2 separate regions of the Homo sapiens genome follow, and region 1 is linked to region 2. The links come from fine-mapping of genetic effects on gene expression. A gene starts in region 2. The other region holds a variant in brackets. All regions are shown on one strand. Distances are from middle to middle.

Region 1 (16,471 bases), 140 kb after region 2:
GCAGAAACATCATACATGCAAAGGTAGAGATACAAGTGTGATCTACCTACTCAGCCTTTTCATTTTAAATTGAGAAACATTTGCGCCTTTGCTACTGTAATATCCTAAGCAAAGAGCTGTGGGAAGTTAAGATAGGAAAAAAAAATCCCAGAAGTTTTTCATCTACTGGGAAAGATAACCATACAGAAAGATAAAAGTGAAACTAGGCAGCAAGTGTGGAAAGTTATAGTAGAGTTAGAAATATGGGGCCTGGCTAGGTGGCTTACACCTATAATCATAGCACTTTGGGAGGCTGATGTGGGAGGATTGCTTGAGGCCAGCCTGGGCGACATAGTGAGACCCACATATCTATATTTTGTTTTAAAAAACAAATGAAGTGCTAAGGGAGAATCAAGCGACTTAGGCATGTTTTACCTCCAAATACCTCTATTAGCAGGAGGGTACCATTAACTATAAAATCAGATTTTCCATTCTGCAAGTGTTCCTAATAATGAGTCACCTTTCAAAACTTTATGAGCCAGGGTAGACCACACATTTTACATCTGTAAAGTGGAGCTATAGAAATTTGTGGCATCATTGGTCCATCCTAATGCCTTGCCTCACTTGAGATTAACATTTCATAAAGCCATTGTCTTCTTTATAAGCCTTTGAATTCCATAGCATGAACTTACTAGAGCTTTTAGGAGATGAAAAAACCATAGAACACACACTAGACAGATAAATATTACCTATCATTGTCATAGCTATTTTTAGCCATGATCTTGACTTTATGTAGTCTTAGAAACTCACTGATTGGCCCAGATCAATTAATGATCTATTATGAGTATCACAGAACAAAACGATTTTTTTCTTATTATGTTGTATGTGTGGCATCATTAAGGAAAGGAACTGGTAAGATGGATGAATAAGTTTTAAAAATTGTGTCTTCATAATGAAAACAAATGTATGCATGTGAATTTGATAAAGTAGGAAACAACATAAGGAACATTTCTGAGGCAATATAACTTTCTGCCATGAATAAAGGTTTCCACTTTTTTTTTTTTTTTGAGACAGGGTCTCATTCTCTTGCCCAGGCTAGAGTGCAGTGGTGCGACCTCAGCTCACTGCAACCTTTGCCTCCCAGGCTCAAGCAATTCTCCTGCCTCAGCCTCCCGAATAGCTGGGATTACAGGAACGCACCACCACACCCAGCCAATTTTTAATAGAGACAGGGTTTCACCATGTTGGCCAGGCTGGTCTTGAACTCCTGACCTCACATAATCCACCTGCCTCAGCCTCCCAAAGTGCTGGGATTATACGCATGAGCCACCGTGTCCAGCCCGTTTCCACTTTTATTAGATGTTTTTTGTTCTCAACAGGGAGTCATCAGTTATTTCAATGTGTGTGATTTTTTGAAAATATCATCTTATTTTTTTCTCTCAAACTTTGGAGAGCTTAAAAAATAGCCTGCTACAGCACAAAAAGTAAGAAAAGTTAGCCAGTGTTGGGGAGCAAAGCTCTGTCCTCTGCGGGCCAGTTCCCTACTGGGAGGCAAAGGATGTGATTTCAAGAGTGCCAGGAAATCTGCCATGCCTCAAAATATCTTCCTTTCCACCTGTCATGGTGCCTGACATTCCATATTTAGACAGTCATTCCTTTGGTGCATGAACATGCAAATACCACTGGGAGGGGAAACACCTTGCTATTATTATAAACTAACTCTTGCACTGTATTTATCTGTGTGAGGGATCAGGTGTCCATGGGACAGCTGAAATCTAGGGGCTTAGAGATCTGAGAAATAAGACAGCACTGTTTCTGTTAGGAGGAAAAAGGAATTTAAACATGTTTATAGGAAAACTAATAGCCAATAAAATTTACCATAATGAATCATCAATTTTACTCTGGTAATTAATCATCTTGTTTTTTGGTTATTTTCTAGCTGACATTGATGACATGAAAATATGCTATGTCTTAAGAGAAGGGGCTAATGCCACAAGTGATATGTTCTATTTTGCAGTTGAAGATGGTGGTAAGTATTCCCCTCTCCTGGTAGTGACCGCAAGGAGAGACGCTTTTCTTGGTTGCTCTCTGATGACATTATTACAAGAAGTCTTCATCAAGTAATATTTCATGATCACCTAAATTTAACCTGGTATTTGCTGTAGACAATTTTACAATCTCACTATGACACAATCCTACTATGTCATGGCTATAGATAAAAGTTCTAGTTATATCACTTTTGTCTTACTATTTGTAAAGCACTAAAGAGAGAGATCTGTATAAATAGGATCTCCATGTCTAGTTGTTCAGATTACACCCTGCATGAGTTTGCCTACTTGAGTCAGTAAGAGGATGTTGGAATTCAGCTGCAGTTCCACTCATAGCCATGTGCTCACTGAGGTGTAGCTGCCCAAAGGAGCTGCTTTTTCCTGATTTGCTCATGGGTTCTGTGTGGACTAATACTGATGGAAAATGTGTTGCATTCACCAAGAAATCAGTAGTAAATTAATGTCTGTTTTATCTCACCAATCTCAGGACTTCTAATGATTTTCTTAGTTTGGGGGATTTTGTGACCTAGTCCAGCTAAAAATTTTTCTTGGTTAAGTGTGAAGAATACTTCAGAGTATAGGATGTGACTTCTGAGCTAAGTCTTTTGGGCGATATTATTCTCATTACTCCCCCAGAACTGCCTGCTGTTTATACTCCTTTCAGCTTTGGATCTCTTGTCTTCCTAACCCTGTGGGTGAGGAGAAAAACTGGTCACTTTCAGATTGCTCATAAAGATGTTTTTGTTCTTGCATGTTTTCTTTTGAAGCAAAAGAACCTCCCCTAGTACATGTGTTGTGTGAACAGGACACCAGAACTGAGGGTATATGTGAGAGAGCAGAGAGAGGAAGGAGAAAAATAATTCATACTCTGTTATCTGTTTCCTTATGATGCTTTTTAAAAATGGCACACTATTATGTCGTCTATCTCAAAAATACTGCATCCTTACCCTCCATGTTTTTTGAAGCATTACATAGTATTTGTTTAAAATATCAATGGACACAACATGATCACAGTTCTGAAAAATGTCAATTGTTGAGTGTGTGCCAGAGAGGCAAACAAAATGTGTTATGTTGGGTTCAACTGTTTGATTCCTACTATGAATCAGAGAGTCAATCATGTGAGTGCCTTTATTTTTTGAGTAACCAAATCATAGTTTAGTATTCTACGTATTGATGAAAGGCATCTTAGCATAAAACGAAGTTCTAAAAAGGAAATCAACTCATAAAAAAAACCTTCTTGAATTTTGCTGCTCAAATGGGAAATTCTATTGTAACTAACTGTAGAGTGAAACCCTGAAATAATCCAAATCTCTGTAACATATATAAAAATTTAAGGATGAAATTATTGGTTTAAAACACCATGTTTATCTCTTAGGATGACTGAGTAAACCTCAATAGCAAAAGTGTGACTTTCTGTAAAATTACCAAAAAAAGTTTCAAATTCAATGGCTGCAATTACACTAAAATATTCTATACTTTTTAATAAAATATTTTGCTTTTTTTGCTCATACACAAACACACACACATTATTTTACCTTACCTGGGTGGAATGGTAGCATTTACTTTAAAATTTTGGTCTCTATTCCAATTTTGGAAAACATTCTATAGTATCATATTTCAAAATATTAAGTGCAAAATATTAAGTGAAGAATGACTAGCTGAAGGGGCTCGGTTTATGTTTGAATTTGCTGAAAATGTGGCAAGGCCTCCAAAGATTGTCTTTATGGAAGTAGGAACATATCATTTTAGGAGTCTTTTTAGAGAGAGAGTTTCATGTGAGAGATAAAAATTTCAGATTTTCTTTTTTACCCTCTTCCTCTTTACTGGCATAACATTACCTATGGAGCTCAGGCAGATTTTGGCAAGCTGTTGAATAGAATTTACTTTAATTCCCCTGATATAAGAAAACTATCCTTTGACAGAATAAACACAGAGACCTGCAAGATTAAAAAGTCACATTGGTATCCCTAAATTGTTTTAACCTGATTCTTAAATTTTTTTAGGATTTTTGCATTGCCGTATAAATCTTCTGACATTTGAATGAGAAGTGCAATACTGTTTAAACTTAATTAACTGTAGTGATTTATTGTCGTCTAGTCTATACAATGATAGTAGGCATATCTATAAGTCATCCCGATGAAATATGAAATGTGTGAGTATTTCACCCCTGGGAAGCAAGTCAGGGCACAATGGCATAAAATTGAGAACTCTGTATGTCCAGCTTGCTTTCCAATCTGATAAATGCATCTTCTTCAAATCAACGTGATTGATTTTATAACAGTAACTATCTAAGGAAATTAGTGGGGCAACCATCATCCATGAATAACCTTAAAAATAAAACATAATTCAATTTAAGGGATTTAGAGTAGGAGAAGAGATTGAGAAGAACAGAAGGCTCAGACCTCTTGTTTCAGATTTAATTGTGTTACCATGGGAATCTGGCTCGCCACAGGATTCTTCTGTTATGATGTAGTAATGGATTAGTGACTATCCATTACTAAAAGGACTATGCTTGGGAAAGGGTTACTACCTTTGAAGTTTTGGAGTGCTTTGGGACTTTTACCAAATGACAGAAGTAAAGAGAGCACTATCTGAGCAACAGATAACATCAGGGTCTTTACCTCAGGGGAAGTCTACTGTATTTGGACTTAATACACGTTGGTTGATATAGCACATGTCCACACACATACACAGATCCTTGTATCTTAGGGTTCTTTCAATTAGATTTCAAACCTTCTATGTTATTTATTGTTTCTTATGCGATTTTACCTTCATAACATCTCTGTGAGCAACAAAAACAGCAAAAAAAACTTAGTATGATTTCTATTTGGCAGATGAGGAAACTGAGTCACCAAAATAAGTAACTTTCCTCCTTCAAGCTGCACAGCTGGGCAACTAGAGGCTGCTTTCAATCTCAAATTCTTTCCTCAGTAATAAGCGATAACTTCCACACTTATTCAGGATAGGGATAAGAGGGGGAACTCTTGAACTTCTCTGGGTTCTCCAGACCAACTTTCTAGGAATGTTTAATAGATGTGAGTGAAGTCAGAGTAGGATCTGCTTTTAGGATAGACAAAGAGCTTTGTGTTTTCTAAAATGTGCATTTTTATTTTAAAATACTTTAAAAGTTGTAGTGCCCTAAACTTTGTAGTACTCTTTCTTGGTATCATAGTGTAATTCTCTTTTTAAAAACCTTTGTTTTCGGTTCAGAGGTACATGTGGAGGTTTGTTATATAGGTAAAGTCATGTCAAGGGGGGTTGTTGTGCTGATTATTTTGTGACCCAGGTACTAAGTCTAGTACCCAATAGTTACTTTCATAGTGCAATTCTTAAAATGATTATTTTATAATGCAATATGCTTATTGGAATATTAGTAAAGAGCATGAAAATGTGATATCAGAATAAGGCACTCACCCAGGTGTTCTGGGCCAGTCAACATACATGAATGCATCATTACAAAGTATAAGGTCAAACTCTGAAGTTCAAGAATATATTCCCGCTGTCTGCGGCTTCATCTAATGAGCTCGTGTATATATGTAGCAACTGCCTGTGGATTTAGCTGTCTTCCATTTCTTTTGGTTTTCGTGCTTTATATCTTCACGAAGGTAACTTATAATAATACAGACCTGGGAAATACATCTTCCTTTGTTGACTGCCTCTTTGAATTGTAATTCCAGATCCAGTACTCTGGAATTTTGTTAGGGAGAAATAAAATATTTATTCTTTTATCCTCTTTGTAGTCAAACATTTTTATCTGATTCCTTCTCAGTGTTCAACTCTCTGTAATTTTTCTATAAGGTATTCTAACATGAAAGTGCTTTGTCGGGCCCTTCTAGCTCTTTATTGTGATGTGAAAGCTGGTCTCAAATAACTATTCCAGGCATGCCCCACCCTCAACCCTAATGATTGTTAATCACTCTTCAACACCAGGCTCAAATATCATTTCCTCTCCAAAGTTGCTCCCAACATCACAATTACATAATTAGTCTCACTCTTTTTTATGCTTTTCTCCCCAACTTTATTTACAGTAAAAATTTATATTATGATTATTTGCTAATGTGGAAACCTCCATTAGTAAGGAAGAAACTCCTTCATATCAAAAAAGGTATCATTAATCTTTGTACCTCAGTGCCAAGGCTGAGCACGAGGTAAATACTTACCGAACATTAAATAAATGAATGGATAAACAGGAGAAAAACAATTGCTCTCTTTTGACATAAAGATCAATTAAATAGTATTATATGAAAAACTCCTATAAACAATTCCCAGTAGACCCTTTGCATTCCTTTAGAACGTTGTTCTATCCTAGCATTAATTTAAATCCCTATGGCACCAGGAAAGTTTTTTAGTGAAGCTTTCACATTTTTAAACGCATGAAATTAACTAAATCAACTGCTGTGAAAATTCCTTCAAAATCTTCAGTGAAATGTACTTAAGATTGAAGTATTAACCACCAGTTCAGAGCTCATATTATTCTTAAACAAGCCTTTTCAGAAAAAAAAACTTGTCGGTTTATTATTAAAGAATTATACAATTTAAAATCTAAAAGGAAATAACCATTTCCTATAAGTCACTAAAATTTTCAAGCCAGCAGCACCACTACTGTATTTTCAGTTACCCCAGTATTTTCTTGTGTGGTATGAGATAACATTAGGACAGGTGGAGAAGTAGAAGACAATACCAGCAAAAAGTATCTCTAGTTTTCATTAAAAAGTCCTCGTGTAAACTTTTTTGTTTGTTTGTTTTAAGTCTCAAAGCCTCAGCATCAGATCCAGCTTGTTTCTTGATGGGCTTGAGAAAAAATTAGAATACATACCTCAGCATCAGATCCAGCTTGTTTCTTGATGGGCTTAAGAAAAAATTAGAATACATGATCACCTGGCTGGACATATTGAGTAGGAGGAGTCTTACATTTGTATTCATTATGAAAACCAGCTTGCTGCTTCCTTATTTGAAACCTCTCATATGACATAGGCATGCAGTCTCAGTGAGTTCTGCCTGCTGAGTTTGGCATTGAAACTGGGGCGGCAGACATAATATCTGTGTTGGCCATTATAGTGTTATCTGGGCCACAGCCAGACATTTTTTTGCTGCTGTCTTTGATTATGCCTTTGGTGCCCAATTTTCCATCCCCCAAGATCCTTGATTCATATGCTATTGAAGGATATTATAAATAGTATCTTGACATAGTAGAAGCTGCAAAGTCATTTCTGTATATGAAATGTCATTTAAGGTCAAGGCTTTTGAATTGTTATTCCGTATTTGATGATTGACTCCTCAAACACAAAGAGACTACCGGAAGCCTTTCATTTTTAATAGAAGGAGTACAAGTTTTTGCTTGAAAATGACCAATAACTTTGGGGTTTAAGGCAAAATAATTACTGATAATTAGCTTGAAGTTAAATCAAGGGCTGGAAAAATATAAATAGAGTAAGTAGAAAAGAGAGGTCTGAGTACAAGCATTAAAAGATTATACAGACATATTCAGCTCAGAGAAAAAAGCAAGCATTCTTGGCAATAAAATTAATTGCTAGTGACATGAGAACCAGGGGGAAAGATGCTAGTGCCTTAGGGAGTTATAATAAGATGGTGAAGTAATGTCAGGCACTGATACAAATATTTTTAATCTGTGAGAGACCACAAGGTCTACTAGAATACAGATCTTGGGAAGGAGTGTTGGCTACTGTGGCTGAATGTTTGTAAGCCTTTCACTCTTCATTGAGCAGTTCACAATAGATCAAGTCATCAGGGTGTTTCTAGGCCAGATCCCTGCCTTTAAAAGCATGATTCTATTAAGGTACCTGTACTGTGTGCAAGAACGAAGTTAAACCTTTTAGATAGAAAAGTATAAACTCAAGTTTTTATACCTTTTAGATAGAAAAGTAAAACTCAATTTTATTTATTATTATTCTTTAGATTCATTCCAAAATTATACATTATATGAATATACTGTTTTCATTGGCTTTAGTTCCGAGAACATTTTTTTAAATTGTTAAATCTTTGGGTGACAATGAATTCTTGTTAGGAAGATTTCTAGAAATTTCACATGATTTCATATTACTCAGAACAAATGATAGTCACCTTTTAAACACTAAGCATATTTTTCATAGGTGATTAAAGTACCATAATCTCAAATCAAATATTTATTTGTGGCATATGTTAATAATTTGATAGTATCTCAATCTGTCTCTTTACATTTGCTCTGATGGCTGGGAGAAGTGGGAAGTTATTTTCAAAGGAGAAGCACACAGTGGTAATTGGTATTATTCTGTATTTGCCAGAACCTAAGATAATGCAACAGATAACCAGAATGCAATGTAAAAGAAGGGTCAGAGTTTCTATGGTGAATCTTATTGGCTAAAGCAAGATTCCTTGTAAATTTCTTTATCGAATTACTCAACAAATATTTTTGGAGCACCCACTCACCATGTTTCAGGTGTCCATTGGGGTCTGAGAATACAGTGATGAATATTACAGTCATGATCTTTGACCTGAGATTCATCCTTAGGATAAAGAAGTAGACGAATGAGTTAAACTTTGTTTAAAGTATTCTGACAGTTATAATTAAGCCCCAGATAGAGACACAGCTGTCAGGAAAGGCACCTGAAAGGTGGTATTTAAGTATAGACTTAGGACAGGATGAAGCTGCCACTAGAGGAAGGGAAGAAGAAACCTTCCAGGTGGCAGCAAAAGCATGTGCAAAGGGACTGAGCTTTGTGTGTTCAAGTCACCAGAAAAGCACCAGCATGCCTGCAGCTCCATGAACAAACCAGAGAAGGTAACAAGATGAGGCTGGAGAGCTAGATCAAAGCCTGATGGTGCAGAGCCTTGTATACCCAGAGGAGTGATTTAGATTTTGTGCTAAAGAAAAGAGTATCCACCTGTATTAGTCAGTTTTCACAGTGGTCTAAAGAACTACCTGAGATTGGCTAATTTGTGAAGAAAAGGTTTAATTGACCCAGTTATGCATGGCTGGGGAGGCCTCAGGAAACTTACAATCACAGCAGAAAATGAAAGAGAAGCAAGTACCTTCTTCAAAGGGTAGCAGAGGAGAGAGTGAGTGAAGGGAAGTGCCACACTTTTAAACCATCAGATCTCATGAGAACTCACTAGCTATCATGAGAACCGCATGGGGGAACCGCCACCATGATCCAATCACCTCTCACCAGGTTTCTCCCTCGACACATGGGAATTCCAATTCGAAATGAGATTTGGGTGGGGACACAGAGCCAAACCATATCCCAAACTAAATCATTTTAAAGAAAGGGAGCATTGTGTTCCAATTTGTGTTTTAGAAAGATGATTCTTGCAGGTGTAGAGGATCTATAGGAGGGCAGCAAGGGGAAACAGGAAGATTGACATGAGGCCGATGCAGAAAGACAGATGTCATATGGGAAGAATAAGGTAAGCTTGATATAATGTTGGATCCAAATCTGTAAGACTTATTGATGAGTTGGAGTGTAGGGTAAGAAAAAAGGAGACCGTAAGCATGATTCTGGGTTTTACAGCCAGCAG[A/G]GAATGGTGCTGCCATTTATGGAGATGAAATAGACTAGAGGGGCATGGACTAGGTTTAAGGGAGGAAATTAAGAGGACATTAGAAACATATTAATTATGAGACCTCTTACTTCTTTGAAATGTGTATACAGGAAGCCAGCCTTTTGATCTTGCTTATCTTTTCTTCCATCACAGTTAGAAGCGCAGCTTTAGGAGTGAGAGCTGGAACAAATACTGCTTGTGCCTCTTACCGTAATTGGTGACGTGACCCTGAGCCAAGTGACCGAGACTTCCTCAGCCTCAGTTTCATTTATAAAGTTGGGATAATAACAGTACCTAGCTAATAGGGTTCTTTTTAAGATTAAGTAGATAATTCATGAAAATAAGATCATTCATGCGGCACAGTTCCTGTCACATAGTAACAACTATGCAGGTAGCTGCTGCTGCTGTAGCTGCTACTCTGAGGGCTTCCAGAGCTATGCTGTTCTTTATTTTTCTTTCTTTATTTCCCCTCCCTCCCTTTCTTCTTTTCTTCCTTTCTTCCTTTCTCCTGTCTTTCTCACAGCAGCTGTCTATACAGTTAGACTGTTCATTTGGTGTTGGTAGAAAGATGGGGGAATACACAGGGATGGAAAGTCAGAACCTGATGAGCCCTTCTGTAGTGCAACGTTTCAATGCTACGGAGGCTTCCAAAGTTATTTCACACGTTGTAAGTAGTTTAACTAATATTTTCATTACAAAAATGATAACAAATGAGTTTTCACTATGGCCAAATAACAGAAATTTTTAAAAACCCACTGTATCTCTGAAGCTCAGCCTGCATGTTTTATTTCTCCTTTTTAAGGGTTGAAGTGTAAACTTTATAGGCTTGAAGATTAATACCGTATCTTGATTTGATCAAAATATAACCCTTCGAAACATCTGGGTTTAGCAAACATGAGGTTCAAAGGGTAGTTTTGATTGCAAATCTCTAATACACTGAGCCATAAGTGGTTGGAGAGATTGATTAAATGCCATGTTTATTCAGATATTGGAATCGCCTAAATATGCTTTGTTATATAGAGAATGATATAGTCACCCCAGTGGCCAGATGCCCCATTTAGTCAATATCATAGAGAAAAAAGCAAGTAAATAAATGTACCTTTGAGAAAACTAGTAAATTTAGGCACTGAGAAGAGCTTGTTTTAAATTTAGGCATTAAGGAACTTGAAATTCCTTACTGGGGTCATTGGAAAATGAGTGTTGTGTGTATGTAGATACTCCTAACAAGTTCCTTCAAAAACTCAATGTTGCTTATGGAAACAATTTGTACTAAAAGAATGCTTCTTGATTTTATTTTATGAAAATATAAAATCCTGCTTTTTCTGAGATTAGAGGAAAACTATATGCTTTTTAGAATCTTGTAATTTTAATATTTTTGTAAGTAATGATTGGGTAATGAATAAATTTTATTTCACATCTACAATCACAAACTTCCTACCTGATAAGTATTAAAGCCTTGTACCTTTCTACAATATCCCAATGAGTTCAAAAGGACAAATGTCATACTTAATCCTCATTGCAAATAAGGAAAAATAAGATTCATTGAAGTTTAACTTTGTGACACAGTGATGAATGCATGAATCACACACATGAATAAAGTATAGGTACTTTTGTTCTTGCTTCACAAATGTGGATTGATTTCATAATGTACATTTTCTAAGAGCAAAAATATTTGTATAAATGAGAAAAAAATGTTTTTCTTAATATTCTGTTTCAGAACAGTTAGTGCAAGTTTACTAAGATTATTAATTTATTAATCCGGTTCTGCCCTTTATAAAAAAAATTGCCAAGTGGCTGCATATAAGCAATGTTTCACTGAGGGAATATTATGTTAAAGAAACAGTGTACCTTCAGATGGTTTACACTTAGAATTCTTACATTTTTAGGAGAGAAGTTTCTAGAATGAATTATTCAGTTATAGCTAATTACCATTAGATATGATTCATTTTTTTGCAGAGTATTAGTATTCTTGGAACAAAGAAATTATACAAAAAGATTAGGGAATAAAATTATATAGCTATATTTGGTTTTCAACTTAGAACATTTTTTTCTGCATGTTAATTTCATGCTAAGCTTAGAAAATAGCAGCCTTCATGGTAGCTTTTGATGAAGGAAGTGAGGACACAATTGTCCTCTTTCTATTCCCAGAGAGCTCTGACTACATTACTGCAGGTTGAGAGAGAAGCGCCTGTTCTCCATCCCTCTGCTGGATTTTTTAGCACAGGAAGGTTTAATCCTTTCATCTTTGTAATGTGCCACCTGCTACCTTTAACTCTACTTATCCAGCTGTTAGAGGCACGAGTTGAGAACACTGAAAACAGTGTTTTTAAGAATAGTTCAAGAGTGCCACTTCAGAAATTGAAAATAAAGTTGTGAAACTGGTTGGTAGACTTTAGAAATCCCCAAGAAAGAAAAGAACCATTTTGTGTCCCCGTAATACTTCTCTTGCTTTACTTGATTTTATGCAGAAATGGCCAAAAATTAAGTGCATTGCATCACTGCTATAAAATTATGAAAGGTAGGCTACATTTAATCCTTTAGGAAATTGTTTTCTCAGTTTCTTCTTGCCACCTAAACCTCAGGGTCATTTTGTTTCACCATCCGTGTCCACCCAGGTGCTAAATCCAGGCAGCTTTCCCTGGTTCCTGAATTTCTGTTGAGTAGGATTCCCACACATTCTCCATGGCCATTGGTTCCTTCAGAACCACATTGAAGTTTATCTTAAATGACGTAACAGATGTAAACTGCTTAAAATAATCATAGGCACAAAGTAAGTGCTATATTCATGTTAGCCATTGACCCCCACTATAATATATGCTGTCCATGAGAGCCAGGATTTTTATCTCTGATTTTCATTGATATACCCTCAGTGCCTGAGTACATATAGGTGCTCGATAAATATTTATTGAGTGAAGGAAAATATTTCTTCCAGTGCAATTCTAATGGATCTCTTTGTCTCTTTTTGCCTTCCCCTCTGACCTGGATATAGCTTGTTTCCAAAATTACCTAAAAATACAAATGTGATTTTAGACCGGGCGCAGTGGCTCATGCCTGTAATCCCAGCATCTTGGGAGGCTAAGGAGGGCAGATCACTTGAGGTCAGGGGTTCGAGACCAGCCTGGACAACATGGTGAAACACTGTCTCTACTAAAAATACAAAAATTAGCTGGGCCTGGTAGCGTGTGCCTGTAATCCCAGCTACTCGGGAGGCTGAGGCAGGAGAATCACCTGAACCCGGGAGATGGAGGTTGTGGTGAGCTGAGATTGCGCCACTGCACCCCAGCCTGGGTGACAGAATGAGACTCTGTCTCAATAAATAAATAAATAATCTTTAAAAAAAGTCTTTCCTCCCTTCTTCTGCCATAATTTTCTAAACTGTAAATTTGATGTTGTCTCTACTTTATAACTCTCAATGTTTTGTTTTGTTTTGTTTTGAGACAGAATTTCTCTTTTGTTGCCCACGCTGGAATGCAATGGTGCGATCTTGGCTCACTGCAACCTCTGCCTCACAGGTTCAAGCAATTCTCCTGCCTCAGCCTTCTGAGTAGCTGGGATTACAGGTGCCCGCCATGACGCCCAGATAATTTTTGTATTTTTAGTAGAGTCAGGGTTTCATCATGTTGGCCAGGCTCGTCTTGAACTCCTGACCTCAGGTGATCCACCTGCGTTTGCCTCCCAAAGTGCTGGGATTATAGGCATAAGCCACCACATCCAGCCTCAATGTTCTCTCACAGGATAAAATTCAGACTCTTCCCATGTTGTACAAACTGTGCAGGTCTGACCCAATGCAACCATGCTGCCTACTCAGGATTCCTGCACATGCCATGCTACTTCATGCACACTCGCCTTTCCTTTCTTCCTCAATCCCCTGCCCACTTCCTCTGCATGAGATTCAGTAGAGATGGCACATTTTCTTCCTGACACCTTCTACTCCTATCCTTAGGGTCAGACATCTCCGCTGTGTTTCCCATAACAACTCATATTTGGATCTCAAAGCTAGATTCAAAACATGGATGTATATAGCAATATATTGATTTATATAATAATTTAAATCATTATGCCAATTGTAAAATATTATATATGTACATATAACTGTGTAAATATATAGACACATACATGTATACAAATACATAATTGCTTACCAAGTGATGTATGGGGCAGCACAAATATTTAATAATATATAATATAATGTAAAAGGTTGTTAGACTATTATGTAGATGCATATATATTATGCAGAATATACTACATAGGTATATATACCTATGTTATATGAGAATGCTTATAAGTGCTATATCATAGTACAAATTGCTCCTCAAATCACACGGATAATTTAAAAATCTTTTATTTTGACGTCATCTTTTATTTAAAGTGGCTTTCACAAGCTGAAGGGTACTCTCCTAGGACCGTGATTTGACACAGATACTGTACCAAACCCTTCTAATGACTTTACCCTTAAACTGCTTATTATTAAGTGACTTGTAGTCCCAATTGGTAGAAAATTGCTCTTAACATCAGTGATGGCCGGGCGCGGTGGCTCATGCCTATAATCCCAGCACTTTGGGAGGCTGAGATGAGTGGATCACTTGTGGTCAGGAGTTCAAGACCAGCCTGGCCAAACGGTGAAAAATTAGTCTAACTAAAAATACACACACACACACACACACACACACACACACACACACACACACACACACAAATTAGCCGGGCGTGATGGCACATACCTGTGTTCCCAGCAGGAGGCTGAGGCAGGAAAATCGCATGAACCCAGGAGGCAGAAGTTGCAGTGAGCCGAGATTGCGCGACTGCACTCCAGCCTGGGTGACAGAGTGAGTGAGACTCTGTCACGAAACAACAACAACAAAAAAACACAAAAAACATCAATGATATTGGTCACGGTGCTAAATCTACTCAGCTTTTCCTGAATGAAAGCAATTACATTCAAACTATTTCTAAGACTTAAAAAATATATGAGACTCATATATTCAATATCTCTATTTGTAGATGAAGTCACAAAAATTATTCACTGGAATGCAAAGTTTAATTAGGTGAATCTATGTACTTCAGGACCAATGAGAAGAGAGCTCTTCTAGGCATTTTGGCCTTGAACCCTGGCTCTGCCAAGTTTTCATTAAACTTTCTGCTAATCTGTTAATCAATCGAGATGCATTTCACCCTAACAATTGGTATACCAGCCCTAAATGTACCACTCTGTACTGGAACTCCTTATATACATTTGTGTTTACAAAGCTTCTCAACTGCGAGAGCTGTTTCATTCATATTTATGTCTCTTCTTCAGTGCTGAGTTGCCTTAGTCACCACACGGCACTTAGTAGGAGGTCAATAAATACGTGTGGAGTGAGTCATAAATAAATGTAAAGCATAGGTGAATTGTTGATTTCTATTTTCTCTTAAAGTTGCATGTGGAGTAACTTCAGAAGTCAAGAGAAAAATCTAAAGAAAAACAGAATAGGCTTACCAGTTAAAAATAGTGTAAAAATAAATGGAAGCTTGTGCTTACTTTCTATATCTTTCAAGAACACATAGGTGTATATGGACATATACTTTCCTGTAATTGTTTGCACACACTTTTATGGTGACATCAAACTCTTGCTCTTTATAAATGAAATTGCTGTCCTTATTTGTACACCCCTAGGTATGTTTCTAGTGTAGAGATATCACTTCCAGATATTTCAGCATTTGTAGATGCTGCCATTTCTTTGACTTGGTTCATGTAATAAGCATATTGTACCTTCTTGATTTATGTTCTGGATGCTGTTGAGAATGGAGTGAGTTTACACCCTTGTCTTAATGTGCTCACTTTAATCTCCCATTTCTCTGCATCACTTTGATAAAACTGAGACAACCACCAGCTCCCTTTCCCTTCCCATCCCCGTCTTCGCCTCCAGCCAGTATGTATGTGGTAAAAGTAAACATTAGAGAGTCAGTTAAATGACAATTCATGTCTGTTTCATTTAATGTAGGATGAAGATAGCAGTAAGAGATAAAGTGGACTAGCAAAGCATTTTATACTAGATTAAAAAAATAAGTGATGTTACTAAATGATGTGGTAAAGTAAACCTATCTGGAAATATTAATGAATCACTTGTTTTAAGATGCTATCTTAGGAGCCTGTGTTTTTTACCATATTGTTTAAATATTCACTGTATGAGCACACATAGTGAATGTAGTGAAAACCATGTGTTATAGAGTCCTTAGAATTATGGATACCATATAGCATTTGATTTTTGATATTTCAAGGAATGGATTGTTTTTTAAATAGAAGATTCCTAAAGTTTTAATGTCTTTGATCATATCATAAGTGTATTATATTCATGCATAGATAGTTTTTAAAATAGTCTTACTACTTCCCAAAAAATTTAAAAGCACTTTAGGATTTTAAAGAAATTTTTTCTATGGAAAAACTGAAGTGAATCGAGTTTATGTAAATTTAAAAACCTGGATTAAAAATGTGGTCAACACTTTGTTATTAATATCCCCAAGCACTGAGAGTGACCACAAACAGTTTTAAATGCAGTGGCTTATCTTGTGGGTCTCTGGGGCTGATAATTTCTTTTTTTTTTTTTTTTTTTTTTTTTGAGGGGATTCTCGCTCTGTTGCCCAGGCTGGAGTGCAGTGGTGTGATCTCGGCTCACTGCAACCTCCACATCCCAGTGTTCAAGTGATTCTCCTGCCTCAGCCTCCCTAATAGCTGGGACTACAGGCGCCTTCCCCCACCCCCAGCTAATTTTTGTAATTTTAGTAGAGACGGGGTTTCACCATGTTCCTCGTGATCCACCTGCCTCGGCCCCCCAAAGTGCTGGGATTACAGGCGTGAGCCACCGCGCCCAGCCCCTGAGAGTTTAAGAACTAGATGCAACAGAGCAGAGCCAAAGCATGTGGTGTATGCA
Region 2 (16,471 bases):
AAACTGGTAATCATATCTGATCTCTTATTGCACATGAAATAATTGAAATACATCAAAAATTGGTACACAATGCTCATAAGTGGAATAAAATTTCTGCTTAAATATATGTGCAGTATTGCATTAAATAATATTGTCTGTGTTGTGCCATAAACACTTTACCCAGGTTTTCAAATATTCTCTCTCTATAGCTTGATTCAGAATTTTATTGTTTCATTATGTGACATATTCACATTTATCTTGTACTCCTTTTAGCTCCTTTCCCCATAATATAATGTTTCATAATGTTTTCTTATTGTCATGCATTCATCAGACAAATCTATTTCTTTAACTAACTTTTTTTGGGGGGACATTGTTGAGTTATTCACTCTACACAGTTTTATTGAGTTTGGATGTACTTACAGGCTATACCTTCTCATCTAGAGAATATAATGTGCAATATAATTGCAATATATTACATTCAATAATATGTGTCAAGCATCTGGTTGCTTTTTGCTTTGCTTCATAGAATCTCTCAGAGAGCTCAAACATCAAGATTGAAAACATTTTGTTCCAGAGAGCCATGAAGCTCTACTGAAAAGAAATACAACAAGATAAAATATATCTTTCACCTGACATGCAAAATGTTTTCTGGCTCAAACGTGTTTACTTAAGGGAAATGTGTGAATTCTATTGATTTTTGGCTGGCTTTGGGGGGAAAAAAGGAGGAAGAGCAGAGTGCTATGTGGTGTTGCCAAGAGATGCCATATCAAATTTCAGTAAGGCCATATCAAATAAAAACATTTTCTAATAAGCTGTAAGAAACTCCCTTAAAAATCCATATAGAGATGACCTTCTACAACAAAAGTATAAAACTAGAATTTAAAGACTTACAAATATACTGAAAGTTATGGTATTGTTGTTTTCCAATAAAAACCAGTTAGTTATGTTGCTATAACTTTTTATAATGTTTACCCAAGTTTAATTTCTAATAGATTGTGTCAATTTATTGGGATCAATTTTATAACATGACATTTCAAATATGTATAAAATATTAACATCCTGAAATGTTCACTCTTATTTGATCTTAGAAGTTAAGCAAAGTAGGTCAGGTGAGCACCCAGGAATATGGGGTACAGAGAAATTTGGGTAGCTAAGAAAGAGTGTGAGAGCAATGGGAAGATTTTCCCCCTCAAAATGGAAACTACAGGAGCATGTTTCTCTATTGATGTAGCAATGCAAAGGTGGCCTGGGTCTACTTGGGGTAGGGTTTCCTGTTCTCTGAGTACCATGATGGCCTCAGGGTTAGGCTCACTTAGGCAACACAGGATGAGAAACTCATTGATGTGTGTCTATGTGTGTGTGTGTGTGTGCGCGCGCACACGCTTGGTTTTTTGTTGTTGTTGTTGTTACCTAAGAAGCAGTTAAGTGTAGAGGAAAAAAAATGAGATTCGGGATCAGGAGTATATCAGTTCAGGAAACACCAGCCCAGAAGACACCACTTAAGAAGTAATAAGGTGGAAGGGGTCCCAACACTGAAGAGGAGCTCAGTGGCAGTGGTCTCCTCTAGGACTGGGCTGATGATAAGAGATGTTATTATAGAACTGGACTCCCCAGTAAAATTGGGGTGCTAGGAGCCCACAATGATGGAGGCCTCATGCAGTGTATCTACTCTGGCCCTTCCAGCTCTATGGGCCTTTTGGTCCCTTCATCCATCATCTACAATGGCAGTTCTAGCATTTCTGCTTCACTTAGCATGAGCCTTCACTTTCCAAGTTTCCAAGAGACAACCTAGCACTGGATTAGCATCATTCCTTGAGGTCCTTTTTAGAGCGTTTAGAGTAATTTTATTTCTATAAACTCTCCCTTACCCAACTTCATATTCTATCTCCCTTGCTTCAGCACCCTCTGGATTAAGTCCACGTATACTCCTCTGTTCACGTTTAAGTCTCCGCAGCTTCTCTCAGATAGAGTTCCTTTTCCCTCTCGCCAAGCCCAGCACTTTGTTGAATGGGTTCTACTGTTACTTGGCCCTCCTCATTGGTCTGGTTGTCAAGAAGGGAGGTAGAAGTCAATCCTCTCCGGGCAGCACACCTGGTCTTGAAAGGCAGAGTGTTCTGTTATCTTCAAGCAGGGCTGGGGATGGGGGAAGTTATGCAGACCAGAAGCGGTAGAGGTAACCTGGGTTGCAAGGTTTTCAAGTGAGTTGACTGAAGTGTCACATCCCAACTTTGAGGTTTCACTCCTCCCAATCTCAGCTCTAATCTTGACAGAATGGTCTTGTTTAGGTTGAGGATTCAAACTTCACTGCAGTTCAACTACCCTTATAATTAAGCATTCGGCCTCATGCCCAGGATCTTCTGTAGAGATGTGCTGCCAAGGGGCCCTTGACTTTCACACTCTGCTTTAAATTGGTGATTACTCACCCTCTATCTTTCAAGTAAGAACCATCTCATTCAATTGTTTTCATACTAACTAATCTCCCCTAGCCTCTCCAACACCTGAAAGACTGCATCAGCGAGTGCATTCCTTTCACTGTAACTTGTTTGTTTTTTGTTTTTATCCTCAACCCTACTGCCGTTTCGACAGGTTATTTTTTTTCTTGTGGGGGGCAGGGGTCCGTTCTGTTAAGCACCATCCCTGGACACTACCTGCTAGATGCCAGTAACACCATCATCCCCTCTCCCTCAACACACATACATCATCTCTATCAGAATTGTCTCAGGCTTCAACAAGCGTTTCCAGAGAGGGGAGAAGTATCGCGCCACTGAGAACAGCACTAGCTCATCCCAGTTCAGCATTGGTGAGAATTTTATCAACTGCATTGCCACAGCACACCAGGCCCTGTCCTCTTTCCACCTGTTACCAATGATCTCTCTCAATAGGTTACGGGTTATTCAGTTCAAATTCCCTTTTTAGATTATTCTTTTGTGGAGTGCTCCTGGCACCACCTGCTGTGTATCAGGTCCCCAGGGGAGTAGATCTTGGGATGGATGTTTGTATACAGAAAGCTTTCTGGGGACTGCTAGGGGAAAAGCATCTGTTGGGGAGTGGGCAGAGGAAGAAGTTGAGCCATTATGCAACTGAAACAACTTTTCATCTTTCCCACAGCGAGCACTGGAGCTAGGATAATCCTTTAGAGATGTCCAAATTGTATCACTAAATCAACCACCATTGGATGCAGGTTGCCTCCAGCTTCTACTGATGGAGGGTAATTCCTAGGAAGTTTTCAGCTATGAGCCATCAGCAGTCAGAATTACTGACTCCTGGGGAAATGAGTGCTTCACAAAGGCTGTGCACCATGACATCCACTACAAAGACTGAAATAGAAAATCTTGCAAAATAATTTATTTTCAAATTAGTCAGTAAAAGACTTAAATTTTGCTGTTAAAGAGAACTTGGTAATGCCATGGCATCTTGTGACAATCCAGTCATTAAGTTAACAAATATTTACTGAATGTCAAGCACTATTCTGGAAGCTAAGCAGTGCATTTATGTACATGAAGAGTGATGTTATTTTGTCATAACAAAATCAACCATATGAGGAAGAATAAAACTGGGATGTGATACCATGAAACGTATTCTATACATTGATTGCTTATTTTAAACATATTACCAATAAAAAGAGGCAACTTAGTGTATTCAGTGCCTCTCAGGGGTTTCGTGTGGACTTGTCATTTACAGTCCCATTGGTGAACATAATATCTCCAATGCATTTGGTTGATTGTTCACTTTGAAAAAAAAAATCAAGCTTTAGTGATAATTCTAGAAAAGCAACGAGTCTTCTTAATAGGTCTGGAATTTTTTTTAATTATTTGGTTTATTTTTGTGGTGGCCAGTGAAGGGTGATAGAATTAAGTGTCTCCAGGGTAATAATATTGGTGGTTGTTCTTAAAATATCCCCCACTGATGAGGTTTGATGACATCTTTAAATGTCCTTCATCTCAAGGAAATTGAGTCATGCTTTAGGAAAGGAATTGAGAAACATTTTAGGAAATGTATGTATGGAGCAAATAATATAATGTTATATAACTATTCAAATTCTAAAATATAAAGCAGTGTTTGGAAATATTTTTATTGTACTGACTTCAGAAGTGTGATGGGGAAGGGGGCATGCTAATGGCACCTAGCTTTTAGAAGCCAGGGGTGCTGTAAATACTCTACAATGCACAGGACGGTCCGCAACAACGAAGAGATCTCCAGTCCAAAATGTTAAAGGTGCCAAAGTTGAGAAACTCTTATATACAGAGAAATAATATTCTCTGTACTCAGCCAGTTAATTAGTTTTCAGTATTTTGTGAAAACTATGCAACGTTCTATACACTTCAGGTTCATACAAAATAATATTCATATTGGCAACTTTTAAAGAACAGTTATTCTACACATTTTTAAGATAAAGCATTAAAATCCTCGTACAATGAAAATAAAAATTTCTGTGCATATCTTTTTTATTATCATTAAACATTTGTGAGATTTAGTCTCCCTCCCTCTGCACCTGCAAGTTTAGCTCCTTAAGGAGGAGTAATTGACACCTTGACATGCATGTTCAGTCACATTCCAGGTCCTGAGTGTGTACTGACCTAGGCTGGAATTAAAGCAGCAGCCACATCTTTACTACCACCTACTGAGAAACACAGTTAATTTTTCCTTCAAGATCTAATGTCATGAGGCAACCGTGACTTTGGGATTCCAGCTTTACCCATCTCTCCTTCTTAAAAATGGTGATGCAAATTATACTCAGGACCCTAAAGCACTAGAAACTACCCGTGTTCTCTCTGCCTCTTCACCCCTAAACAACTACTCCCTTTCAGACATCTTGCCTTTTAACCTTGTCTCTGTTCACTTCCTATCCCTGGCACCAAGCCCCCACTGGCACTGAAGCCCTCTTCTAGTCCCTAGTTTGGAAATACGTTCAGATTCTTCACACCTGCGTCTTTTCCAGAATTGAAGCCAGTCTCCCAACTATTAACATAATGGGTCATGACAGATTAACTAGGAGGTAAATATTCACGGAATTGCTCACTTTAGGCCGCTGAATTTAGACATTGTCTTCCATTTTCTATAGAAACTTTTTCCCCTGTGACATTTTGAGTGCTGTATTGTAATTGTTTCTTTATAGGTCTCCTTTCTCAATCAGGCTGAGAGCTTTCCCAGGAGACTGATTTTTCGTCTGCGACCTGCAGAATAGAGTATGGGACATAATGGACTTTGAAAAATGTTCGGTAAGTAACAAAATGCCTGATTGAAAATCTCATTACTACCCTTAGTCTTTGGCCAGTGGCTGCCCTTCTAGGTTTTAGAATCTAGTGTCAACTGTGATACTAGTGCATTTTCTCTGCCTCTGCCCTGTTTAGGTGCTGGACTCTGGGGCTGTGTTCTGTCTGTCCTATCTCTTCTGTGCTGATATGAATAAGCCATATTGTCTTGAGCTTGTGTAATGCACAGATAAGTCACTACCTAGTAATTCAAACAAATTTTTTACAGGATTGCTTTAATGAACAACTAAAGAACTAGTAATTACTTTAATCACAGGCATTTCTGTGGCTGCAGCAGTAGAGACCATTAATACCAAAAGGCCTCAGGCATCTAAACTGGTTTAGAGAGAACAGAGCTTCTTTGTAAGTAAATGACTTTTAATCAGAGGCTCCAAAGCTGTCACTGGAACTGTGGCAATTTACCCAGACACAATTAAAGCTTCTACTTTAAATAAAGAAATAAGAAAAAAAGAATATTTTACAGGAGAAAAATGAGAAATGGATTAGCATTTACATAGACATGACATTCCAGTGAGTGAATACCAATGCTAGAAATGATGATTATGATGAAGAAATGCAGAATTATATGCATTAAACCTACAGTCTGAACAAAAATGATCAGGAAAGAATGGGTGTATTATCCAAAAATTATATACCAAATAAATGGAAAAAGATTTGTAGCAGAGCATTGAAATGGAATAATACTATAGGGATTTTTTAATATTATAATTGTATGTATTATAAAGATGGAAATGCTGCGTAACTACTATTTTAGAAAGGATTTGATCCAGTTATTTGGACCAGCATATGAAAATAAATATTTACTATTTAACATTCCTATGCCTTTGATTTTTGTTTTTTGGCTACAGAAGCCTCCAAAACTTATGAGAATACAATTGCATCAATCGTTTTAAAAAGTTTGAGTAAAAGAGTCTGAGATAACTACATATGTCAATCAATTTTTACAATGAAAAATACAAAATAGAATTAAAGTTATTTGTTATTAGTGTTTCCAATAAACAATATAATCATTCTGCAAGCGCCTAGAGATTTAGATATCACGCATGCTACACAATTAAAGAATGGCAGCATAAAGAGACTGTTACCCAATGGAGCCAGTGTTCAAGAATATTTAGTGATGGTTTATTGTGCTTGAATGATGGACCTCAAGTGAAATCTCTTTTATGTATATATAGTTAATATTTCATCTTATTTATTTATAAATCACTTTGTTTCAAAATTGAGCCAGCTACATTAAATACTCATAATTCAAGATAAGATGTAATTCAAAATGAATAGATGGGATAATTTCCAAGTAAGATCTCAAGAGGCTGAATCCTCTCCCCGCAAGTGAGGATGATCATTCTCTGTCCACCACTCAATGCCTATGATAGTGCCTGGAACAGAGGCAGTACTCAAAATTATCTGCTGAATGAACAGATGTGACTCGAATGCCCATTTTAAATTCCTCCTCTCCTAGACTTTTATTGAAATAGTCACCAGAACAACAAGAATAGAAAGACTTTTAATTTGTTTAATTTTTTTAGTATAGATAAAATCTTGCTCTGTTTTCCAGGCTGGAGTACAGTAGCTTGATCACAGCTCACGGCTCAGGGCAGCCTTGACCTCCCAGGCAAAAGCGATCTTCCTGCCTCAGCCTCCTGATTAGCCGGGACTACAGGCATGTGTCACCACACCTGGCTAATTTTTTTTTTTTTTTTGTAGAGACAGGGTCTCACAGTCCAGGCTGATCTCAAATTCCTGGGCCCAAGTGATCTTTCTGATCTCCCAAAGTGCTAAGATTACAAGAGTAAGTCACCACACTTGGCCTAAGACTTTGTTTATTTTGTCAGAGTTAAATCAATCTGGAAGAGAGTAGTGTTTACTACAAAGTAGTATATTTCTGCTAAATATAGTACTGGTGGGGCTGGAGGAAAAAAATTAACTAATTAAAAAGCTGACCTGACCATGTGGGAAGGAGTAGCCTATTTGAGAAGTAAAGCTAGACCATCATCCTCCAATTCAGAATGGCTTGGGCTGAAACCGGCAGCTGGCTGGTGGGACAATCAGAAGCATGTCTGATTCCCATTATCTTCCTCTGGGAAGAATGCCAACTACCAAAGACGACATCTATGGAAAAAACATAGAATCACTTTTAATGGGCTCACAACACAACACAAATGGCCGTGCCAGGAACAGAATAGCTGCCATACTAAATAGGGAGTTGAAACTCCAGTTTTTCCATTTCTCAAGCAGTATGTCATTGAACTGGCAGAGGAAAACTAGAGTAAATCTTAAGTTTTTCATCGTCCTTTATTTAGAAGAAGATGGTTAAATAATAATGTACACAATCTTGGAGAACAACCGTCTCATTTTTTAATATTAAGCAAGCATTGAATTTTGTGGTAAATTCAAGCAAACTGTACATGATAATCATAGTGATGATAATGATAGGCCCAAAGAAAACATCAAGTTTATTTTCTTCTGGAAAACAAGGTTTCCTGAGGCTTTCAATCAACCACACTGTGGTCTGGAGATAGACTACAGTGTGCATCTGAAGTACCTGCAATGGGTGTGATAGGGAAATAGATTCTGTTCATGTCTGTCTACCATGCGGGAGCCAGTGAAGCCTCCTCACTCTGCCCCACACAGAGATCTCTGGGGCATGTCCCTAAGAGCATCTCCCAGCCACCCTTTTCAGGGCTGGTGCCTGTGCTTGCCATTGGGATACACATGGGCAAGCCAGAGGCTCCAGCTCTGCCCAATTGTGTCCGGCCTCTTCCACGGAACACCAGGAACCCCACTATCCAGCTCTTCACCTGAAACAGCAAAGAACACGTCACAGTAAACAGATCAGGGCCATACCCTCCCTGTTGTGCAGTAAGTAGCTGGCTCTTACCTGCAAATGTCATCTATTGGCCTGTAGGTTGAACCCAATACAAAACCTGCTGCATAGGTCTGTAGAAGCAGAGCCAAAACAGCCTGCCCACTACAGCCATCTCCAGATGAGAAGGAACCAGTGTGAGAATTCTGTCTGAATATTGTGACATCACCAGAGGCTCACAGTAGCTCTCTAGCAATGGTCCCTAGCAGAAAAGGAGGCACAGAGATGCAGATGGAGAATTCAGAGCATGGATTGCAGGCAAGTTCAGTGCAATTCAAGGTAAGATTGCAAATCAACACACAAACAGAAAAAAACTTCTAAAGCAATCCAGGAAATAAGGATAGAGGAAAACATTTTAAAACAAAATCAATCAAAGCCACTGGAACTGAAAAACTGAAGGGATTTCAAAACAGAATTGAAAGCATATTTTTTAGTAGCATAGACCAGGCAGAAGAAAGAATTTCAGAGCTTGAAGATCAGTCTTTCAAACTAAACCAGTCAGATAAAAATAAAGAAAAAAGAATTAGAATAGATGAATAAAGCCTCTGAGAAATATGGGATTTGAAAAGCAATCAAGCCTATGAATTATTAGTATGCCTGGGAGATAAGAAGAGATAGTAAACAACCTAGTAAACATTATATTTGAGGACAAAATTCAAGAAAATTGCCCTAATCTTGATAGAGAGTTAGACATGCACATACAAGAAATTCAGAGACCACCTTACTGATACTATACAAAACAAACATCACCAAGGGATATAGTCACCAGAATGTCAATGCTAAAGAAAAAAATCTTAAATGCAGCTAGAGAAAAAGGTCAGATCACAAAAAAAGGGAACCCCAACAGGCTAAGAAAAACTACTCTGCAGAAACCCTACACGCTAGAAGAGAGTAGGGGCCTATTTTCAGCATCTCAAAGAAAAGGAACTCTGACCAAGAATTTCACACCCTGTCATACTAAGCTTCATACATGAAGGAGAAATACAATCTTTTTCAGCCAAGGCATTGCTAAGAGAATTCATTACCACTAAACCAGCCTCACAAGAGATCCTTAGAAGAGTTATGAATACGGAGATGAAAAACAATACCTGTTACCAGGAAACCACACCTAAGTACACAGCCCACAGACCATTTAAAGCAACTGCACAATACAGACTGCAAAACATCCAACAAAAAACTTCATGATAGGATCAAAACTTCAAGTATCAATATTAACCCTGAATGTAAACAGTCTAAATGCCTCATTTAAAAGGCATAGGGTGGCAAGTTACATTAAAAAATAAAAAGACCCATCCATCTCCAATTTTTAAGAGGTCCATGTCACATGTAATGACATCCATAGACTCAAGGTAAAGGTTGGATGAAGATCTATCATACAAATGGAACATAAAGGAGCGAGGGTAGTTATTCTTATGTCAGATAGAATAGACTTTAAACCAACAACAGTAAAAAAAGAACAAAGAACGACACTACATAATGATAAAGGGTTCAATCCTACAAGATGACCTAACTATCCTAAATATATAAGCACCCAACATTGAAGCAACCAGATACACAAAACAAATACTTCTACAACTACAAAAAGATGTAGACATTCACACAATAATAGTTGGGGATTTCAATACCCCACTGACAGTGTTAGATTACCGAGGCAGAAAACTAACAAAGGGATTCTGGACTTAAATTGGATACTTGACCAAATGGACCTAATAGATATCTACAGAACACTCTACCCATCCACCACATAATATACATTCTTCTCATCTGCACACAAAACATACTGTAAGATTGACCACATACTTGGCCTTGAAGCAAGTCTCAATAAATTTAAAGAAATCAAAATCATACCAACCATACTTTTGAACCACAGTGGAAAAAAATACAAATCAAGGTCAGGCACGGTGACTCATGCCTGTAATCCCAACACTTTGGGAGGCCAAGGTGAGCGGATCACTTAAGGTCAGGAGTTTGAGACAAGCCTGGCCAACACAGTGAAACCCTGTCTCTACCAAAAAATACAAAAATTAGCCAGGCATAATGGCACATGCCTGGAGTGCCAGCCACTCCGGAGGCTGAGGTGGGAGAATCCATTGAACCTGGGAGGCGGAGGTTGCAGTGAGCTGAGATCACATCACTGCACTCTAGCCAGCCTCAACAACAGAGTGGAACCCTGTCTCAAAAAAAATAAAAAATACTAATAAATACCAAGAAGATCTCTGAAGAACACACAATTACATGGCAATTAAACACTTGTTTCTGAATGACTTTGGTGTAAACAATAAAATTAAGACAGCAACTTTAAAAGTCTTTGAAATTAATGAAAACAGAGACACAACATACCAAAATCTCTGATATACAGCTAAAGCAGTTTTAAGAGGAAAGTTTATAGTGCTAAATGCCTATGTGAAGCCATTAGAAAGATCTCAAATTAACAATCTAACATCCCACCTAGAAGAACTAGAAAAACAAAAAAGTAACCCCAAAGCTAGAAGAAGGAAAGAAATAACCAAATCAGAGCATAACTGAACAAAACTATAAGCAAAAAAGTCATACAAAGAATTAGCAAAGCCAACAGCTGGTAGTTTGAAAGAATAAACAAGATTGATAGACTGCTAGCTAGATTAACAAAGAAAAAGAGAAAATCCAAATAAGTGCACTCAGGAATGACAAACAATATTACAGCTGATCCCACAGAAATACAAAAACCCTAAGAGGCAATTATGAAGACCCCTGTGCACATGAACTAGAAAATTTAGAGGAAATGGATAAATTTCCAGAAACACACAACCTCCCAAAACTGAGTCAGAAAGAAATCAAAGCCCTGAACACATCAATATTAAATTTCACAATTTAATCCATAACAAAAAATGTACCAATCAAAAAAAGTCCTGGATCAGATGGATTCATAGCTGAATTCTGTGAGACATACAAAGAAGAGATGGTCACTGTGGTACTAAAACGGTTCCAAAATATATAGGAGGAGAGACTCCTCCCTAACTCATTCTACAAAGACGTCATCATTGTGATAGCAAAATCTGGCAAAGACACTATGAAAAAAATGAAACTACAGGCCAATATCCCTAATGACCAAAGATGCAAAAATCCTCAACAAAATATTAACAAACCAAATCCAGCAGCATATCAAAAAGTTTATTCACAACAATCAAGTAGGCTTTATTCCTGGGATGAAGGGCTGGTTCAACATACATAAATCAATAAATGTGATTCATGACATCAACAGAATTAAAAACAAAACCACCTGATAATCTCAAAAGCTGCTGAAAAAGCTTTTGATAAAATCCAACATGCTTTCATAATAAAAACCTTCAACACAATAGGCAAGGAAGGAACACACCCCAAAATAATGAGTTATCTATGACCAACACCCAGCTGACATCATACTGAACAGGAAAAAGCTGGAAGCGTTCCACTTAAGAACTAGAACAAGACAATAATGCCCATTCTCACCATTCCTCTATAATGTAGTACTGGAAGTCCTAGCCAAAGCAATCAGGCAAGAGAAAGAAATAAGAAATAAAAGGCATCCAAATAGGAAAAGGAGAAGTCAAATTATCACTCTTCACTGATGATATGATTCTATACCTACAAAATCCTAAAGACTCCAACAAAAGGCTCCTAGAATGGATAAACAATTTCAGTAAAATTTCAGGATACAAAATCAATGTACAATAATCAGTAGTATTTTGACATGCCGATAACATTCAATCTGAGAGCCAAATCAGGAATTCAATCCCATTTAAAATAGAAAAAATAACTAGGAATACATCTAAGGAGATGAAAGGAATACACCAAGGAGATGAAAGATCTCTGCATGGTGAACTACAAAACTGCTGAAGAAATCACAGATGATAAAAAAAAAAATGGAAAAAAATCTCATGTTCATACATCGGAAGAATCAATATTGTTAAAATTGCCATATTGCCCAAAGCAGTCTATGGATTCAATGCTATTCCTATCAAACTGCCAATGACATTTTTCACATAATTTTAAAATACTGTTCCAAAATTTATATGAAACCAAAAAAAGGCCTGAATAACAAAAACACGTCTACATAAAAGAACAAAGCTACAGGCATCACACTACCCAACTTCAAACTACACTACAAGGATACAGTAACCAATATAGCATGGTACTGGTACAAAAACAGACAACATAGACCAATGGAACAAATTAGAGAACTCAGAAATAAAGCTGAACACCTAAAACCATCTGATCTTTGACAAAGTCAACAATAAGAAGCAATGGGGAAAGGACTCCCTATTTAATAAATTGTGTTAGAAAAGCTGACTAGATCTATGCAGAAATTAACTGAAGATGGATTAAAGACTTAAATGTAATACCCAAAACTATAAAAATCATAGAAAAAAGCTAGTAAATGTCATTCTGGACATCAGACTTGGCAAAGAATTTATGACAAAGTTCCCAAAAGCAATTGCAACAATAACAAAAATTGACTAGTGGGACCTAGTTAAACTAAAGAGCTTCTGCACAGCAAAAAAAAAATTATCAACAGATTAAACAGACATCCTACAGAATGGGAGAAGATATTTGCAAACTGTGCATTCAACAAAGGTCTAACATAGAGAATCTAAAAGGAACTTAAACAATTCATCAAGAACAAACAAGTAATCCCCTTAAAAAACAGGCAAAGAGCATGAACAGAAATTTCCCAAAAGGAAATATGCATGTGTCCAAAAACTACATGAAAAAATGCTCAACTTCACTGATCATCAGAGAAATGCAAATCAAAAGCTCAAAGAGATACCATCTCACACTAGTCAGAAAGGCTATTATTAAAATGTCAGAAAATAACAGATGTCGGCAAGGTTTTGGAGAAAAGGGAATGCTTATATAATGTTGGTGGAGATATAAATTACTTCAACCACTGTGAAAAGTAGTGTGGAGATTTCTCAAAAAAAAAAAAAAAAAACCTTGAAACAGAGCTACCATTTGACCCAGCAATCCCAATACTGGGTATAGAGCCAAAAGGAAAATAAATTGTTCTACCAAAAAGACATGGATGTGTACATTCATCACAGCACTATTTTTAATAGCAAAGACATGGAATCAACCAAGATGCCCACCAGTGGTGGACTGTATAAAGAAAATATGATACATATACACCATGGAGTACTATGCAGCCATAAAAAGAATGAAATCATGTTCTTTACAGTAACATGGATGCAGCTGGAGGTCATTATCCTAAGCAAATTAGCACAGGAATGGAAAACCAAATATCACATATTCTGACTTCTAAGTGGGAGCTAAAAATTCAGTACACAGGATATAGAGGTGGGAACAATAGACGCTAAGGGACTACCAGATGGGGAAGGGTGAGGTGGTGGCAAGGGTTGAAAAGCTTCCTATTGGGTACCATGCTCACTACCTGTGTGACAGGATCATTTGTACACCAAACCTCACTAATATGTAATTACCAATGTAACAAACCTGCACATCTACCCCCAAAACTAAAATAAAAGGTGAAAAAAAAATGATAGATATCTGAATAGGCTAGATCTTTACTTCATAAATATATTTTTTTAATTCTCAAAAAAATCCATCTAGTAGAACTTCCAAGAGAATGCTAATAACCACATTATAGAATATTTTTCTTTTAATTCAGCACAAATGAAGACATGGTAGTGTACTACAGAACAATCTCCAATATAATAAAAATTTTATCAAAACCAAGATAACACTTGATGGTGAAAAATTGCAACTATTTTTAAAGTCAGAAACATTAGGAGTGTATTTCTTTTACCAGTCTTATTAAATGTATATTATCAAGACATTATAATCGATGCAATACTAATAAATAATCCAGGCCAATAAATAGCAGAAATCATAATTTTCACATTATGTTATTGCCTACTAAGGAAAACTAAGAAAACCAACAAAAACGTGATTAAAACTCAAAAGTGAATTCAGAAAAATGTCCGATTTCCAAACTTCACAGTGTTCAATGTACCGATAATAATGTTTGAAAACAGTGAGTAAAAATACTTTTCTCATAGTAACAACAAAAGTTATAAATAGATTACAATAAATTTATAAAGAAATGCGCAGAATCCAGACAAAGTAAACTACAAAAAGTTTATTGTGGCATATAAAAAAGACTAGCAAATGAAGACGCATATTATAACACTGGAGTAGAACTTAATGGTGTAAACATTCTCATCCTGTGTAATTAATATGGCCTAAGTGTAATATAATTATGATAAAAATAGCTGAAAAATGTCTTGTGAATACAAAAATGTTACTGAAGCTTGTTTAATTGAAAAAAATGAGGCTAAATCCTTCAAAATAAATGTAAAGGAGAGTACACTTCCAATTATTAAGATGCATTAAAGTGCTTCAATAATTAAAATAAGATAGCCCATACTGATTGGAAGAAGTTCAAAGGCTAGAAATAAAAGAAAAACTCCAAAGAACAAAGGTATAAATAGAATCTACATATTTATATTTTACATAAAAGAAGTCTGGAGGCGGATAGTTTAGGGCTGGCAAGACAGCTCCAAGTTCATCAATAACTGAAGCTTTCCACCTGGATATTTTTGGTGTATAGTTCCATCCTAAGTGTGGCTTCTACCCTCTGGGTTATGTTTTAGTCCAATACATTTGCTGGAACCCATCCATCACTTCCACACTGCAGGGCAGAAGGAAAAGTAAAGCCAAAGGAGTAAAAAAGGAATTCCTCTTCAATGAATGAGTTCCCTTTAATCAGCCTTCCCCTGTGGCCCACTTGGTAATCTTGATGGCATTTCATTGGCCAGAACCTAGACATGTGACCACATCTTGCCATAAAGAAGGCAGGAAATCATAGTTTCATTTGTACGTTATTTACCTAGCTAAAAATTAACACTCATATTTCTAAGAAGGAAACAGGGAATCAATGTTGGACTAAATAATGCTAGCATCTGACAAATGATAGGAAATTAGTCTATAATAAAGGTGGCATTTTATATTAACAGAGAAATGATGGCTTTTTTCAAAAATAATTCTGAGAAATTAGATAACTACCTAGAAAAATGTTAAGTTTACTCTTTCCCTATAGTATTCAGAATTTTAAATTATGTATTATTTAAATTTCTATAATTTTAACTTTTTTCTGATTCAAAATAAAATATATCATTGAATGCAATTTAGGAAACATAAAACAGTATACCAAGCATATCTATAATGTTATTACCATAGATTACAATGATCAATGTTTTGAACTTTTCTTTGTATATAAACATCTGTATAGATTTATATAAATGGATATAATGTGTATATAATATATATGTATATTTAATAAATATATATAACATATATGGGTGCATGCACAAACATATGTATATGTATAAACACACACACACACATACTCAGATCATATTGTATGATTCAGGGTGGTGTTGCTGAAAACATTGGAAACCGATCCTAACACATAAAAAAGTCATGCATCACTGAAAGATGAGGATACCTTCCAATAAATGTGTGGTTAGGGGATTTTGTTGTTGTGTGAACATTATAGAGTATGTTTACACAGATCTAGAAGGTATAGCCCACTACACACTTAGGCTATATGAGCCAATGCTCCCAGGCTATAAACTTGTATAGCATGTTACTGTACTGAATGCTAGAGATAATTGTAACAGTATGGTAAGCATTTGTGTATCTAAACATATCTAAAATTAAAATGCTACAGTGAAAATATGGTATTATAATAGGACTACCATCATTGATCAAATATTGTCATGCAGTTCATGACTGCATTAAAAAGTAGCTCAGCAAAAAATAGAAAAACCTACAGAAGCAAAAGGAAAACATCAAGGACATATTATAGTCAAAAGTTAGGTTACTACAAACCATCAAATCCTACTTAGGTTTTACAGAAGAATCAGAAATATGCCTCTATGCCTTCCAGAGATATAATCAGTGATGTAATCTACAGAATCCGTAAGATATAAACAAACTCTTTCCTATTACAAGAATGGAAAGAAACTTAAACCTTAGGTACTAATGCATAACAAGCCATGCAATATAATGCATAGGAATTTCAACAACAAAAACAAGGCTGTTTCTTATCTCTCAGTGTAAACCCATATAATCTTGGCAATGTGTAGTTCAATAAAAGCTGTTCGACAGGAAGCCAGAACAATTTTGTCCACCTCTGTAGCAGTCTGTTGTTCTGAACAATACAATGAGAAAATTGAGAGTCACTATAGCAATGGTTTTCAAAATGTGTTCTAGTGGAGGATCTTGGCTTCCAGGCAGAAAACAATCAACTTTTAATTCTTAGAGGGCTGCATGAAGTTTGCTTGAAAACAATTTTTAATTAAAAACAATAGTAAGT

Alleles and levels. Positions count from the first base shown, and alleles are read on the strand shown. Sizes are in standard deviations (SD) of each study's normalised expression.
For the expression in prefrontal cortex of the gene that starts at base 8,323 in region 2, G is the high allele of the variant in region 1 and A is the other (moderate effect, 0.62 SD a copy in CommonMind).

What was found. PIP is the estimated chance that this variant, and not a neighbour inherited with it, causes the effect.
Region 1: its variant is fine-mapped to the expression of LINC00366 in prefrontal cortex (CommonMind, PIP 0.92).

The regions. Positions count from the first base shown.
Region 1 is chr13:38,695,780-38,712,250 of GRCh38, forward strand. FREM2 (FRAS1 related extracellular matrix 2) reads left to right here. Exons shown (of 24, transcript NM_207361.6): 2 at 1,919-2,008. Among named protein-coding and RNA genes, the nearest start is that of FREM2, 17 kb to the left of the region's middle. RefSeq lists a silencer at 2,193-2,487. The variant A/G (reference allele first, on the strand shown) is at 9,543.
Region 2 is chr13:38,559,402-38,575,872 of GRCh38, forward strand. It overlaps LINC00366 (long intergenic non-protein coding RNA 366), which reads left to right and starts at 8,323. Exons shown (of 4, transcript NR_046999.1): 1 at 8,323-8,394. The region is part of intron 2 of LINC00437 (long intergenic non-protein coding RNA 437); the gene reads right to left. LOC105370167 (a long non-coding RNA gene) reads right to left here and starts at 8,219. Exons shown (of 2, transcript XR_941883.3): 1 at 8,131-8,219; 2 at 7,683-8,050.